Linked DNA regions of Homo sapiens: region 2 is linked to region 1. Evidence: fine-mapped expression QTL. Tissue or cell type: whole blood. Region 1 holds a variant in brackets; the other region holds the start of a gene. All regions are shown on one strand. Distances are between the middles of the regions.

The links. PIP is the estimated chance that this variant, and not a neighbour inherited with it, causes the effect.
Region 2: it holds the start of EPSTI1, and the variant in region 1 is fine-mapped to the expression of EPSTI1 in whole blood (TOPMed, PIP above 0.99).

Annotation. Positions count from the first base shown.
Region 1 is chr13:42,966,079-42,974,262 of GRCh38, reverse strand. It overlaps EPSTI1 (epithelial stromal interaction 1), which reads left to right. Exons shown (of 11, transcript NM_033255.5): 2 at 3,593-3,651; 3 at 5,086-5,169. Among named protein-coding and RNA genes, the nearest start is that of EPSTI1, 22 kb to the left of the region's middle. The variant A/G (reference allele first, on the strand shown) is at 3,648.
Region 2 is chr13:42,988,455-42,996,638 of GRCh38, reverse strand. EPSTI1 (epithelial stromal interaction 1) reads left to right here and starts at 4,398. Exons shown (of 11, transcript NM_033255.5): 1 at 4,398-4,661. The coding sequence starts at 4,474. RefSeq lists enhancers at 3,765-4,004, 4,265-4,384.

The DNA of each region.
Region 1 (8,184 bases):
CTGGGATCAAGCGATTCTCCTGCCTCAGCATCCCGAGTAGCTGGGATTACAGGCGTGTGCTATCACACCCGGCTAATTTTTGTATTTTTAGTAGAGACAGGGTTTTACCATGTTGGCCAGGCTGGTCTTGAACTCCTGACCTCAAGTGATCCACCCGCCTCAGCCCCCCAAAGTGCTGAGATTACAGGCATGAGCCACCGCGCTTGGCCAAACATTTCTTGAATATCTTTTTATTTTATGTTTCTTATGGTGCAGAAAAACATTTTATCTTGTCTGTTCTTTCATATATTCTCCCTCAGTATATCTCACGGATGTGCGCTGTTGGAAAGTGAAAATAATCTTACAAATTGAGATCTTTCATTAAATTTCAATGAGGTAATTAAGGAGACTCATTTTCAAATATATATATTTATTTCAGTGGCTTGAATGTTGCTTAATCAGGAAATGACAAGAATGCGAAATGTTGGTTGTTGGGCTTGTCTAGATTAGCAACTTTGAGAGTCAGGCTGTTGGAAGAGATAGCACATAGGTTAAAACAGCAAAGGCCTTTGCTGTGGGTACAAACTAATTGGCTGAAAACATTAATAAATTATACTTGCTCTTCATGTCAAGAGAAAGCTAAGAAAGAAGGGATGAATATTTGTATCTACTAAGGCATTACACTCTGACACATGATATTAAAAAATAAAAAGCATATCCTTTGACTTAAGCTCTTCTTCTTATATTAAGAAATAGAAATAGAAGCTAAGTTCCTTACCATTTACTTGGCAATGCTTTCTTGGGACTATTATAACATGTTTCAGATTTGGCATTTTCAGTCAATAAAATATTGCTGAGAAGGTTGCTGAGCAATTCACATAAAATTTACATAAAACGTTTATTACTGGGACCACTGCCTGGGTTTATGCTAAAATGCTTTCAGTAAAAACCCTCTAAATTCAGAGCTAATTCTTTCCCTTTATTTTATGTTTCTCTATTAGGTACCTGTAAGCTACACACATTGGCCATAGATTGACTGAAGTCCTATTCTTAAGATGGAAGATTCTAGTATGATGTCGGACTTAAAAACTTAACCAGATTAGATATTGTAGAATACAATCTTTTACAAATGAGTTGATTTTTCTCTCCAAACCTTTTGCAAAATTTCCGTAAGAGAGACTCATGGACTTGGAAAATTCTCTGTGAAGCTGCTTTTGGCAAAGTCCTGGCAAAGAAACACTTTTGCTATTTCAGATCCTATTCTTTAAGCCTCAACTTACTATTCTTATTTCGTGCTATTCAGTTTTTTACTCTTCTGAGGTCTCTATGAATCTCCACTGTTTTGGATCTCTGAGTACTTACATCATTCCCACTTTAAGACTTGTTTGGGTATTCTTTTTTAATTTATTTTTTATTTATTTATTTTTGTTTTTTTCCCCATCCAGAACTCATGTTGAGTGGTTGGATATTCTCGTGGGGTGCTTTTGTGGTTTCTTGACTTGTTCCTAACTAAAGTGTAAGTTCTGTTAAAGTGATTAGTATCCCTGTTCTGGAATCTCCCCTCACTCTCTACAAGCCCCTAATACAATAAATCCATAATAAGTGCCCAGTTAAGTAGGTTGCATTGTTTGGAAGTCTATCAAGGGACTAAAGTTAAAGGATGGTCATATTTTATGCTTTGCACATTGAGTTGAAAAGTTAGCTGCAGACAGAAAACTGATCTAAGTCAAAAGTCTTAGACTGGAGTCTCATCAGTGTTGCTCAATTGACCTGGTGATCTTTGGCCTGAGATTCAACCTCTGTGTCTTTACCAGTGATTTATGAATACCTAAGTTTTCTTTTATCCCAAATGTTCTAAGATAGCTTGATTGCTCTATAGTAGTGGTTTTCCAAGTGTGGTACCTAGATCAAGAACAGCATCATCTTGGAACTTGTTAAAAATGTAAGTTATTTGACCCAGTCGCAGGCTACTGAATTAGAAACTCTCAAGCTCGCGGACAAGCCCTCCTGGTGATTATGATGCACGATAAAGGCTGAGAACTACTGATCTGGAGTATAGTCAAATTTGTGGTATAGAGAGAAGCTCTATACCACAATGTTAGCAGACATTGAAGATTGTGTAGCAATTTCATGATTGGCATTTACGTCTCGTATCTGATGTTTCAGCTTTCAGTCTCTGTAGCATGGCTCACCATTGCATCATATTCAAGTTTCCAGGGACTACCCACGGGATTGTAGCTTCCAAGCTCCTAAAAAGTACTGGCAATTCAGAAGTGAAAAATGTTTCTTAGGGTGTACAAAGAATGTGCAATGGACAAGGGATTAATTGCCAGTGGCAGTCTCCTAATTTTGTATTCATAACGTTGTATGCATGCTAGGCTACACATGCAACGTCTGCTGATATACATTAAGTAATTGGGCATCCAGCAGCCCCATTTGCATGCAAAGGCTGTTGCACACCTCACATTTACAAGTCTAAAATTAAAGCCCAGTTTGAAGCTGGCTGAAGGCTAGCTGCTAGAAAAATAATGAGATAAGGAAGGAAATGGCTTCTGTTGATCAGTGCTTTTGGCCTCTACAGTTCAATCTTTGCTAATTTGCCCTTTGAAATTGTGTATTCAGGTAGAAGAGAGAGACTTCCAAGAGTATCTGGGTGGGGTTTTTTCCCTCCCTCTTAAATCCTACAGTTAGAAGCTGGTTGTGTTTATCCACAGCATTTCTCTTAAAACTGTACCTACATGTATGCTGCAGTCTGTTGCTGTGCTATATTATTGCTTAATGGAGTATTCATGTTCTTGTGGGATCACGTGCATCATCTCAAAAAAGAGCCACCCCCACACAGACTCACAGGCTGGGTCTGTAGCATCATTTTGTTTTAATTCAGCCCACATTTATCAAGCAGCCAATGTCTTTGTGCCAGACACTGTGCCAGGGGCTTGGAATACACATCAATCAAGCACACTCTCTGCCCTCAAAAGCTCACAATATTTTAACAGCTTCCTAGTGTCACAGAGGTGAATATTTTTCTTAAAAAGTCTTCCCTGATCCGCCTGGTTGAAATGACTCCTTGCTTCTCCGAGCCCCTGATTATGCTCAACCTGTGTCCCTAGGAGAAGAAGAGACCAGTGGACATAGGCCTAGAAAAGTCAAAGCCTAAAAGCCAGTTAGTTACTCAGATCATCAAGAGGAGGTGGCTGCATTGCAAATGGCCTCTAGGATCAGTCTGTGGGAACAGAAAATGTACCAATGTTTCCTGTACCCCGGTGTGGTCACACAGAAGAGAATGCCAATCTAAAGCCATCTTAAAGGAATTTACTCACAAGCACCACCTAGAGGAACGGTGGAGCCCTACAAGGACAGTACACCAACTAGTCACTTGTCACTCATCGAATGCTTTATATTTTCATATTTGGCCATGTCCTTTGTTTTACTTTGACATCAAGATTGTGAGGTCCCAGAGAACAGATCAGGGTCTTAAGAAGATTATCTTTCATAGTGCCTATTTGATGGTAATGATCATAAATACAGTATAATAGAAGGAAAAATATCTGGTGGCTTATATGCATTGGTAGTTTCTCATGGTAATAAGCATTTTTTTTTCTCTTCCTTTTAGCACAAGTGCATACACCTTGATAGCACCAAATATAAACCGGAGAAATGAGATACAA[A/G]GAAGTATGTATAGTCATTCATTTAACATTCAGAATGCTTCTCTCTTTTTACAATTGGTTTGTTTTGGTGTGAAGTATTTTTATTTTCTCATTTATATAGACTCACCAAATCTCATCAAGGTTTTTTGTTTTTTTTAGTTTTGATTATACCTTTAAAAATATTCTACTATTAACACTTCTAAGTTTGTTTCTCTACGTTAGTAACAGAACTCATGACATGATGGTAGATCCTGGATTTCTGTTGGCTTGAACAACTTTACACTTATTGCCAATAAACCTCCTTGAGGGTAGGGACCACATCTTACTCGTTTTTGTGCTCTCTGTACTTAATGCGTACATAACATGTTTAATTGATGTACAGTAAATATAAATGCTGCCATTTAAAGTTATAGCATTATCCTTTAGAGGTGGAAGAGAACTAAAGTTCATTTAGTTCACAAAGAAATTGTAGGCTTGCTCAAGTCCAGCTGTGGGGCTATGCTGAAATTCGATGGTCTCCTTTATTACATGATTGGTAGGAAATTTAACTTCATGACTAATGATGGACAGAAAGGCACAAAAGGGAAAAAGCTCTCTAAAGAGTCTCCACCGGACATGTAGCTCCGGGTGGGACAGCGGGTCAGTGCAGAATATGACAATCACAGCCATGCAGGGACTATGGGAACTGCCAGCAGTTCTGGTATCTTACAAGCTTTTGATTTAAATACTTAATAGGAGATTAAGTCTCAATGTGGTCTGGATTTCGAAATGTTTCAGAATTTGTTTTTCTAGTAATGGACATTTGAAACAGGTCTCATGAGGAGATAAGGGGAGGCGCTGGAGTGACAGAACTAATTTCTCTCTGGCGCCCCCTGCTGTCGTGCAGAGTGAACATTTAGGAAATGAGCCCTGCTCCCCAGGAAGCCGACTCTGCACAGTGGTCTGGAGTGCCTGAAACCAGAGCAAGGGTCTCCACCTGTAGCACCGAGCCCTCATTCCCTAGAGTCGCAGTAAGCTTGGGAGCATTGAAGATAAAGCGAGTATGGGCATCAGAATTCTCTGGGGATATGTTTACCTATGTGTGGAAAGTTCTTATTGACGTGAAAATATTCTAGTTTTGCACACATTTTCTATAGGTAACTTTAAAAATTAACTTGATATAGAGTTTTAAAAATGCCAGAATGGTAGGAAAATCTATACTTCTTTTAGTAGGAGCCCAGGTGGTTTTTCAAATTCGAACCCTCTGTGCTGACTCTTGGTGAGAATGTGCCACAGGGCCGGGCCCAGGATGACCTGTACGGGTCAGGGCTGAATATTGTGTTTCTAACCTGGAAGCCTTGTTCACTCATGCTCACATATAGTTAATTGCCTTCTAATAGTTGTTTCTTATGCTTTGAAGGGACTGGTTTTCTTTTAGAAGTCTAATAATTGACGATTTGATATTTCTCGCCTGGCTTAGTTGCGGAGCAGGAGCTGGCCAACCTGGAGAAGTGGAAGGAGCAGAACAGAGCTAAACCGGTTCACCTGGTGCCCAGACGGCTAGGTAAGCAAGCACAGCCGCTGCCGGAATGAGGGAGGGCGGGGCCACCTATGGATCCTGTAAGCAGCTTGCATATGTCTGTCTGTGAATGTCCATTGTAGTTTGTTTGGTCATTGTGCTGCTTGGGTGGAATGCATTTAATTGTGTGTGTGTGTGTGTGTGTGTGTGTGTGTGTATTTTTTTTTTTTTCTGATTTTCTGCAAGTAGCAAACCTGTAATGCCAGAGTTCTATGGGAACACAGTGATGGCTTAATTGCCAAATAATTTAGAGCCTCTTAGATGATTGACTCTGAAAAAGCTTACCTGGGGCGCTGCATATGCCCTGTCATAGCACTAGTCAGGATGGGAGTAAATGCTGGCACAAGCATATTAATCATGGCAGTTAAATGTTAATCTGAAGAAAAGGAGTGGAGAGTCAGTTCCAAGAGGGAGATGAGAGTGAGCTGGAAACCCGGTGGTGGGTATAAGAGAAACATCACCTGTGTTTTTATTCTACAGATAGAGACCTCTGGGCCTCTGGAGCAGGTGCTGCCAGTGTGATGAATTGTCTGGGCCGCCTTTGCCGGTGTTTGAATCATTCAGAAGGGATGCCACCTAATGGGAATCATTCACATCTTTTCTTTGCTTTTTCTCTTCTATCAGCAGCCGAAAATTTAAAGGGTTGGACACACAGTGTCCACAGATTTAGTTAATACAAGCATGTCTTGTGTCAGGGGCCACTTACGGTTGTGATAGTTTTAGAGAAGTTCCCTCCCCACACCCTGCCCCCCCACCAAGAACATAGGTAAAAATAATCTAATTTGGAAATTATTTAATGGGAGGAAGTAATAGTAATATTATCATCATCCCACTGTATTTCGTGAAAAGGGCTAATCTCAAGTGCCTCCTTTGTGCAAATGAGCCAGACTCGAAGGGTACAATCAGAAAACAGCTTTAATCTTTCCTAGCTTGGCCCCTGAGATTGGCTATGTGAGAACAGTCTTTCTCAGGCTTTTTGGATGATGTAAGAAATTAAAGCTTTTTGGTCTCTTTCAAACAGTAGAGTGACCTAGCTAATTCTAGGCCTAAAACAGTCTCATTTCAGTAATTAATGTTCAGTCTTAGGTACTGATCAAAATTCTGTTACTAATGGAGATGAGAGCTTCTCCCCTGCTCTAACCCAGGCCTGTTTCAGGTAGGAATCCAGCAAGTAGAACAGGGTGTGGCTGGACTTTTCTCTATTCATGGCTCTGTTCCCAGATTCTGACCTTTCTGGGATTGAAGGGGGAAGTGGAGGGAGATAAGAGAGTTCGGGGTTCGTAATGCAGTGATCCTTGTTTCTTTGAGCCTAGGTTTACACTGACTGCTCGTTCTTCTTCCTGGGAATCTTCGAGTTTTTCAGCATCCCCCACTCTCTGCTACCCATCTCCCACCTGGATTTCCCTGATACAGACGATTTCCTCTCCTGTCGGCAGGGCTTGGCCTCACTGTTGGCTCTTGGTAGACTCCTTTTAGGGTTCCATTGTTCTTGACATGGCCCTCATAGGCAAGTCCCTTTAGATGGCTTTAGGTTGGCATTCTCTTTCATGAGAATCACATTAAAAGTACAGGAAATACTTGTGCATTCTTTCTTTTCATAAACTGTGAATGTGGGCCATTTGTAATGTAGCTACCTCTTCTTGAGGACTCATCTCAGTGGCCAATGGACAACAGCCTTATACCTTTAGGCTCTAACTGTTCTAGGCATGAATCCAATAAGACCCTCAGACTCTTAAAAATGCAGGTTGAGGTCTCCAGCTGATTTTCTTTTTTTTTTTTTTTTTTTTTTAATTTATTTTTTTATTGATAATTCTTGGGTGTTTCTCACAGAGGGGGATTTGGCAGGGTCATGGGACAATAGTGGAGGGAAGGTCAGCAGATAAACAAGTGAACAAAGGTCTCTGGTTTTCCTAGGCAGAGGACCCTGCGGCCTTCCGCAGTGTTTGTGTCCCTGATTACTTGAGATTAGGGATTGGTGATGACTCTTAACGAGCATGCTGCCTTCAAGCATCTGTTTAACAAAGCACATCTTGCACCGCCCTTAATCCATTTAACCCTGAGTGGACACAGCACATGTTTCAGGGAGCACAGGGTTGGGGGTAAGGTCACAGATCAACAGGATTCCCAAGGCAGAGGAATTTTTCTTAGTGCAGAACAAAATGAAAAGTCTCCCATGTCTACTTCTTTCTACACAGACACGGCAACCATCCGATTTCTCAATCTTTTCCCCACCTTTCCCGCCTTTCTATTCCACAAAGCCGCCATTGTCATCCTGGCCCGTTCTCAATGAGCTGTTGGGCACACCTCCCAGACGGGGTGGTGGCCGGGCGGAGGCGCCCCTCACCTCCCGGACGGGGCGGCTGGCCGGGCGGGGGGCTGACCCCCCCACCTCCCTCCCGGCCGGGGTGGCTGCCGGGCGGAGACGCTCCTTACTTCCCAGATGGGGTGGCTGCCGGGCGGAGAGGCTCCTCACTTCTCAGACGGGGCAGCTGCCGGGCGGAGGGGCTCCTCACTTCTCAGACGGGGCGGTTGCCAGGCAGAGGGTCTCCTCACTTCTCAGACGGGGCGGCCGGGCAGAGACGCTCCTCACCTCCCAGACGGGGTCTCGGCCGGGCAGAGGCGCTCCTCACATCCCAGATGGGGCGGCGGGGCAGAGGCGCTCCCCACATTTCAGACGATGGGCGGCCGGGCAGAGACGCTCCTCACTTCCTAAATGTGATGGCGGCTGGGAAGAGGCGCTCCTCACTTCCTAGATGGGATGGCGGCCGGGCGGAGATGCTCCTCACTTTCCAGACTGGGCAGCCAGGCAGAGGGGCTCCTCACATCCCAGACGATGGGCGGCCAGGCAGAGACACTCCTCACTTCCCAGACGGGGTGGCGGCCGGGCAGAGGCTGCAATCTCGGCACTTTGGGAGGCCAAGGCAGGCGGCTGGGAGGCGTAGGTTGTAGCGAGCCGAGATCACGCCACTGCACTCCAGCCTGGGCACCATTGAGCACTGA
Region 2 (8,184 bases), 22 kb before region 1:
TACAGGTATGCTCAAACACATACATACACACACACACTAAAAATGAGGAGATACCAAATATTCAGAGTTTTACATAACTCCTTTGTTAGAAGAGAAAAAAAAAACCTTTAGATAACTGCTGTCCTAAATCTCTTAGATTAATCTAACTTTCCACTGAAGAATCAAATTTAAGGAAATGTGACTTTTTAGAATTTTCAAAAACTAAGATTTTTTTCATTTACACATTTTATGACAAGAAAAGTCTTAGAGTTTATGTATCTCTCTCTATATTTGTACATATTAATGCAGGAGTAATCTAAGGCAATTAATTTAAAAATCAGACATATATTCCCATTTATTTTCTTGAAAGAAGACACACTTAGACATGTTTGCAGTAAAATAAATTGGTAAAGTTTCTTTTTGATTTAATCTTCTCTCTTAAAGCTCATAGGGCTGGCTAAAATTGCTCATTGTATTTCTGAATTTCCATTCCCCAACAATGCCTCATTTTATGTTTTTCTTTACACAACTTTTGGAATCCTTTTTCTTTTCACTCAGTTCTCCTCTTCCCCAGCCAAAATGTCTTTTGCTCAGATTAAACTCATTTACCAAAAGGAACGAATACATGATTATTTCCCAGAGGCAGTTTCATTTGAAAAGAAAAACATTTCCTAAATGAATCTCTAATTGGCCAAATTTCAGGTAAGGTAACAATCCCACTAGATTTCACTTCTTTCTCATGTCTCTTAAAACATATTCCTAGGTAATTGTCTAGTATGGTGGTTTTTCAAACTTTTAAAAGCCATTGAATTCTTGCCTCAAACAAAATTAGGCAGTGGCCTAGTGAGTAGAAGAGATAAGGGGCTAAAGTACTTGGCTAAATAGGGATAGGGGCCCAGGACCCTCCCCACTCACCTCTGCTTCTCTCCACCAGCCACTACTATAGAAAAACGCACCCAAGAACAACTCCAGTAAAAGGCCAGCCCTTATTTTCGCCCAAATGCACACACCTACGGTGAAAGAATGGATGATACACAAGTAGCCCATTCTCGGGCATCCAAAAGGAGCCTGTAGATGTCTGTTGCCATAATAAATCACATTCACTTTTTTTTGTTGTTGTTGTTGAGACGGAGTCTCGCTCTGTCACCCAGGCCGGAGTGCAGTGGCATGATTTCGGCTCACTGCAAGCTCCGCCTCCCGGGTTCACGCCATTCTCCTGCCTCAGCCTTCGGAATAGCTGGAACTACAGGCGCCCACCACCACGCCCGGCTAATTTTTTGTATTTTTAGTAGAGACAGGGTTTCACCGTATTAGCCAGGATGGTCTCGATCTCCTGACCTCGTGATCCGCCTGCCTCGGCCTCCCAAAGTGCTGGGATTACAGGTGTGAGCCACCGCATCCAGCCTCACATTCACATTTTTTAAAACACTTTGAGAATGTGGCAAAACAAGAAGTGAATGGAGTGAGAAATCTCAGGTAAAACAAGAAGTGAATGGAGTGAGAAATCTCAGGTTTGAAACTTTGGTGTGACATGTGGTTGTGTTGTGAAACAAATATGGTTAACTAAGTATATTCTTGAGGCCAACATCCCTATTACTAGCTCCTTTAGGAGAATCAGTTTTCCCCCAGTGTGGGTTTTCCCTTCCTCAAACTTTAAATTTCATCCAACCACCAAAATAATTTTCTCCTTTGAAACAAGAGTTCCAGGGGTATTTTCCTAGTAAAGAACAATGTGGAAGATGGCCTCCAGAAAGGCCCTGCTGTTCCTCTTTTTTGTTGATCTCTAGGTCTGCGTTTCTCACCCCGCTGGTACCTTACACCCAACAGCACCTAAACAGACTTTTAGAACTTCCCTCAAAGCTTGTCCCTCCTCTAGGTTAATGGTTCTACCTCGTATCCAGTCACAAAGCTAAAAGTCACCATAAAGACAGCAACCATTAAATTACTGGGGCTATAAGGTAGGCATACTGTGAAGATCAGGATTTTTCAACTTCAACACTGTTGACACGTGGGGCAGGACAACTCTTTGTCATGTGGGCCTATTCTGTGCATTGTAGGATGTTTAGGAGCATCCCCGGCCTTTACACACTAGATGCTAGCAGCACCTACCCACTTTGAGGCTTCACAATCAAAAATATGTCCAGGCATTGCCAGATGTCTGCTAGAGGAAAAATCAACTCCATTTGAGAACCACTGATGTGGATGATCTCTATTCCTCACAATACCCACATGAGGCAGAGGAGGAAACTGGATCTCTGAGGAATTAAGAGATTTGGCCTTGGTTGTGTGGCCAGTATGTGGCAAAGCTGGTCTCAAAGCACTATAAAAGCCATCTCCCCTTCTCTCTGCTGCCTTCCAGTACTCAATTCTCTCTTTCATCTAGTTTTTATCTATGCTAATCTCTCATGTGAAATGTCTTTTATGTTTTATTTATTTGTTTTGTAGAGATGAGGTCTTACCATGCTGCCCAGGCTGGCCTTAAACTCCTGGCCTCAGGTGATCCTCCTGCCTCAGCCTCCAAAAGTGCTGGGATTACAGGCATGAGCAACTGAGCCTGGCCCATGTGAAATGTCTTGATTTTGCTCCCCACTTTCTGGGTTGCCTTAGCTCAGATCTGTATTTCTTACCTAGACGTAACTAGGCTCTGAATTTATCTTCCCGATTTCAGTCTCTTCATCTTTCAATCTCCGTTTTCACATTGTTAGAAGCTAACTTTGTAAAACAGATATTATTGAGTAACTGCCCTATTGAAAAACTTCCTGTGCCTTCCACATTGCCTACAACAGTGGTTCCCAAAGGGTGATCCTGAGACTGGCATCATTGGTATCACCTGGAAATTTGTTAGAAATGCAAATCCTTGGGCCCCATCCCAGACCTGAATCAGAAACTATATATATATATTTTTGAGATGGAGTCTCTCTCTGTCGCCCAGGTGGAGGTGGGGTTTCGCCACGTTGGCTAGGCTGGTCTTCAACTCCTGATCTCCAGGTAATCCTCCTGCCTCGGCCTCCAAAAGTACTGGAATTACAGGAGTGAGCCACCGTGCCTGGCCATAAATCTGTTTTAACGCACCCTCCTCCAAGTGGTTCTGATGCTTACTGAAATTTGTGAAACTCTGGCCTACTCTACAAAACCCTAATGTCTTAGGATGGCATAGAAATCCTGACTGACTTTCCTACCATGTTCCTTGTCATTATTTTCTCCTCTCCTGTCCCACCCTGGCCCACCCTTCAATTTCATTCTTTCATTAGCTATCAAACCTGTATGTGTCTTTTTGTTCTAAGCACCAATAATATAAGGAAGACAGTCCAGCTCCTAACTGTCTTGCTGACCTAGGACTGGGGTGCTCCAGCCACATGACAACCCCTGGAATTAAGTACACACCATGTCATTTTAAGTGACAAGCCTCTGCCATAGCATCTCCTTCTTCTTGGTGAATTCCTATGTCTTTGGTGGCTCATTCTCAAATGTCCCTGTTCCTGAATTACTCAGAGGGCTAATCCCCAGTTTCTCTGTGCCTCCACAGCTGCCTGTCATTTCATTTATCCCAAAGTGGCATTCCCATTTGTTTACCTGTCTACTAGGATACTCCTAGAATGCAGGTAGCATGAGGGAAGAGCCTTCACTCATCTTTGTGTAGACGGCATTGTGACCCTGGTGACCAACCCTGGCACACATCAGAATCATCTGGGAGCTTTTCAAAAATATGAATGCCAGAGCTCACCCCTGAACCTACAGGAACTGAGCCTTACACATCCATATTTTAAAATGTCCCCACATCACCGTTGCACACTGTTCTGCACAGAGCAGGTATTTTTAATAGTTCTCGAATGTCTAGTCAATTACTTAGCAAGGCTGCCTGGAGAATCATGTCTACCTTAGCTTACTTCTCCGGCTTTGTAGGTTTTTGTTTTCTTTTGATTTCAGTTTCCATTTCCTCTAACTTGAAAGTATGTGCATTGGTAACAGCCACACAGCAGTCATTACTGATAAAAGGCGACATTTTGTTGAGATGATTTTAGTTATTGACCTAATCTCTGGTATTTTAAGGTTAATATATTTTTTACAGTCTCAAATATCCAGCGGTAACCTCAAATTAGAGTTGCCTGTTAAACAGTTTCTCAAGTATCTTTCAGGATTGTAGTCACTCTGCGGGCTAATCGCTCACCAGGTGTCCGTGGCTGATCCCAGTTATTCTGATTAACCTCTAAGGTGATTGTGAGACTTTAAACCGTCTCACCTGTAGCCGACCAAGCCAGCTCAAGTCAACATCCTGGGCTGTTAACCCGCGATAAGGTCGGACGGGGCCTCAGTGGAGAATACGTGGGGAAGTTCTCTGGGGCGGGCGCAGTCTGCTGCTGATTCTGAGAAACCGAAACTCAGCTGTTAAAACCGCTGCCTCTGCACTTTGGAATCCCATCTTGAGACTCGCTAAGCGTCCCAGCCGCATCCCTCCCGCAGCGACGGCGGCCCGGGACCCGCGGGCTGTGAACCATGAACACCCGCAATAGAGTGGTGAACTCCGGGCTCGGCGCCTCCCCTGCCTCCCGCCCGACCCGGGATCCCCAGGACCCTTCTGGGCGGCAAGGGGAGCTGAGCCCCGTGGAAGACCAGAGAGAGGGTTTGGAGGCAGCCCCTAAGGGCCCTTCGCGGGAGAGCGTCGTGCACGCGGGCCAGAGGCGGTGAGTATTTTAACAACCTGGCTTCGGGGCGGGAGCCCGGGCCCCAAACATACTCACTCACAAGCACCTTGGTCCTTGGAGTTTAAAACCACAGGGGCCCAACAACAGGGATTTTGACTGAATGAAAGCTCATTTGCTTAAATGAAAGTATCCATGCCGCACCTTATAAATTGAGTCGGCTAGTTTGCAGTCCTTTGGTAAATAACCAGCCCGGTTCCTTCCAGGAATACTACTTTCCTGATTTTTGTGACTGGCTACAGGATTGAAAGATATGGGTGTGTCGGAACTGCCTAGGCATCCAGTAAGATGTCATTTTCCAGGTATCTCCAGAACTCATACTCCAACCAGTATGGAAATAACTTTTCCCTTACTGTTTTTAAAAATTTGGTGCTGGGCCAGGCGCGTTGGCTCAAGCCTGTTATCCCAGCACTTTGGGAGGCCAAGGCAGGCAGATCACCTGAGGTCAGGAGTTCGAAACCAGCCTGGCCAACATGGTGAAACCCAGTCTTTACTAAAAATAAAAAATAAGCTGGGTGTGATGGCACGTGCCTGTAGTCCCAGCTACCTGGGAGGCTGAGGTAGGAGAATCGCTTGAACCCGGGAGGCGGAGGTTGCAGTGAGCGGAAATTGCGCCATTGCACTCCAGCCTGGGCAACAGAGCGAGACTGTCTCAAAACAAAACAAAACAGAAAAACAAAACTTGGTGTCCTAAACGGAATTACTGTATCAGACACTAACAGGTAAGGGTCAACAAGAAATGTGATATGGGGTAGAAGGTTCAAATTCTGCCTCTAGGTAGGAGCAAGCCTACGTCCCAGCAAGACTCGCAGATAAACTAGCCTCTTACAACCAGAGGAGTGGAGCTGAGAGAGTGAGGAGGTGAGTGACCATAGTACCTCTCATCCCTGATGTTGATATGTGCTCTATGCAGGAACAGATAGGTAGCTTTTATTCCTGGTCTTTGGTTCAGGGACTGCAGTGAGTATCCGGGAAACATTTATTAAGCAAGTGTCATGAGCCTCTCTTTCTAGCCAATGGAATGAACTTTAACTCAACAGTATGGTTTATCACAACATCACTGCCTTTGAAGTGCTGCCTCTGTGAATTGGAACTGTCCAGATGGTTTTATTTTTAGTCTCTCCTTTTTCATCGACTTCTAGTCTCTGAAAGACAAACCCTGGTTGCTAAGAAACAGTATATAACCTTATGGCCGATAAACAGTAGATTTTCTTTCATCCCTTAGCTTTTGGAAAGTACCAGGCCTTTAATATTATTATTTAGCTTAGGTTTACCCTTAGATGGGGTGGATAATCTGGAAATCAATTAGAGATTGTTGCATTTCTTTCCTCCTCAGAATAATTAGTGTCTCGCCACAGTAGAAGCAGCCAATTACTTTCAAGTAACCCACGTATCTACAAGCTATAGTACTTAACAGTAACAAAGGTCACAGACATATGGTCTCGTGTCCATGAATAGTTAACGATGAACATGATTTGCATGACTTTTTTCTGTTAAAAAGCATTTATTTAGATACAACCATTTATTTCTAAGCTCATATCATCGCATAAGTATTAACTGTTGCATCTGTTTTCTTATTTGGTTGTAATTACCCTGGAATCTTGCCAGATCAAATTGCTCAGAAAGAGGCAGCTTTCTGATGGGTTATCCAGGCCTTAATACCCTGAAGAGCTCACTGTACACTATTTTGCGATTCCTGAAAAGATTTTCAAATGAACCATTAAAAAAATACCAGGAAGTGTTTAGTTATCTCTCACAGAGTCTTCCTTTTTTTTTTTTTTTTTCCTCATGTGAACCAGTTGCAGTAAGTACAGAATTATATATTCCCTTTTAGGGGTTTGATGTCTGAGATCCTGTTGGGATGACTTTGAATTTTTGTTGCATCTCCATTAGTTACTTAGATTCACTTTCTCACTTGTTTCCTTTAATGAAGTTGGAAAACCAAGGAAAATGAATGGCAAATATCTCAGTAGAATTAGCTGCCTACCCGCTGCCCCAAAATAAAGAAGGCTTTATTTATTTTGGGGATAAAAATTAGAAACACTTTCTGATTTAAAAAAATGAAGAGGCCGGGCATGGTGTCTCACGCCTGTAATCCCAGCACTTTGGGAGGCCGAGGAGGGCGGATCACGAGGTCAGGAGATGGAGACCATCCTGGCTAACACAGTGAAACCCCGTCTCTACTAAAAATACAAAAAATTAGCTGGGCATGGTGGCAGGCGCCTGTAGTCCCAGCTACTTGGGAGGCTGAGGCAGGAGAATGGCGTGAACCCGGGAGGCAGAGCTTGCAGTGAGCCGAGATCGCGCCACTACACTCCAGCCTGGGCGACAGAGTGAGACTCTGTCTCAAAAACAAAACAAAACAAAACAAAAAGCAAAAAAAAAAAAAAAAGAAAAAAGAGGATAAAGTGCTTTAATAGTACAGTTTCATTTGTCCACTCATAATGTGAATTTATTTATATGGTAAAAGATTTGTCTTGTTTTGTGGGAATCCTTCCATTAATTTCCTCCTGCAGCCCCAGTGTGGGGATTAGGAATATGGGCTCTGATGCTGGGTAGACCTGGGTTCAAGTTCTGATTATGCCATCACTTGCTCTTTGAACAAAATCCTTAGCTACTTTATGCCTCAGTTTCCTCATTACTTAATATAAGACAATACCAACTTCATAGGGTTTTAATTTTTCCACGTGTATATGTGTAAAACATAACTTTATTCCTGGTAAAGTACTATGCTGTCACCCTTAAGTCGAATGTTTGTGCCTTGTTAAAAAAAAACACTGGTTTAAAACACCTACTTGTGGTCGGGCGCAGGGGCTTGTGCCTGTAACCTCAGCACTTTGGAAAGCCAATGTGGGAGGATTGCTTTAGTCCAGGAGTAACATAGGGAGTCCCTTGTCTCTCCAAAAAAAAAAAAAAAAAAAAAAAAATTTAAATTATCTGGGCACGGTGGCACATACCTCTGTCCCAGCTACTCAAGAGGCTGAGGCAGGAGGATAGCTTGAGCTCAGGAGCTCCAAGACTACAGTGAGCTGTGATTGTACCACTGTACTCCAGCCTGGGCAACAGAGTGAGACCCTGTCTCAAATAAATAAATAAATAAATAAATAAACCACCTATTTGCATAGAAAGAAAGTATACTAGTAAAAATCTGTGGCTATCAATATATTAAATTATTCTGAGTACCTCTGATAGACTCTCAGACAAGATTGAGTTCTTTTTTTTTTTTTTTGAGACAGAGTCTCGCTCTGTCGCTCAGGCTGGAGTGCAACAGCGCAATCTCAGCTCACCACAACCTCTGCCTCCCGTGTTCAAGCGACTCCTCTGCCTCAGCCTCCTGAGCAGCTGGTACCACAGGCACATGCCACCATGCCTGGCTAATTTTCGTATTTTTAGTAGAGACGGGGTTTCGCCACATTGGCCAGGCCGGTCTCAAACTCCTGACCTTGTGATCTGCCTGCCTCGGCCTCCCAAAGTGCTGGGATTACAGGCGTGAGCCACCGCGCCT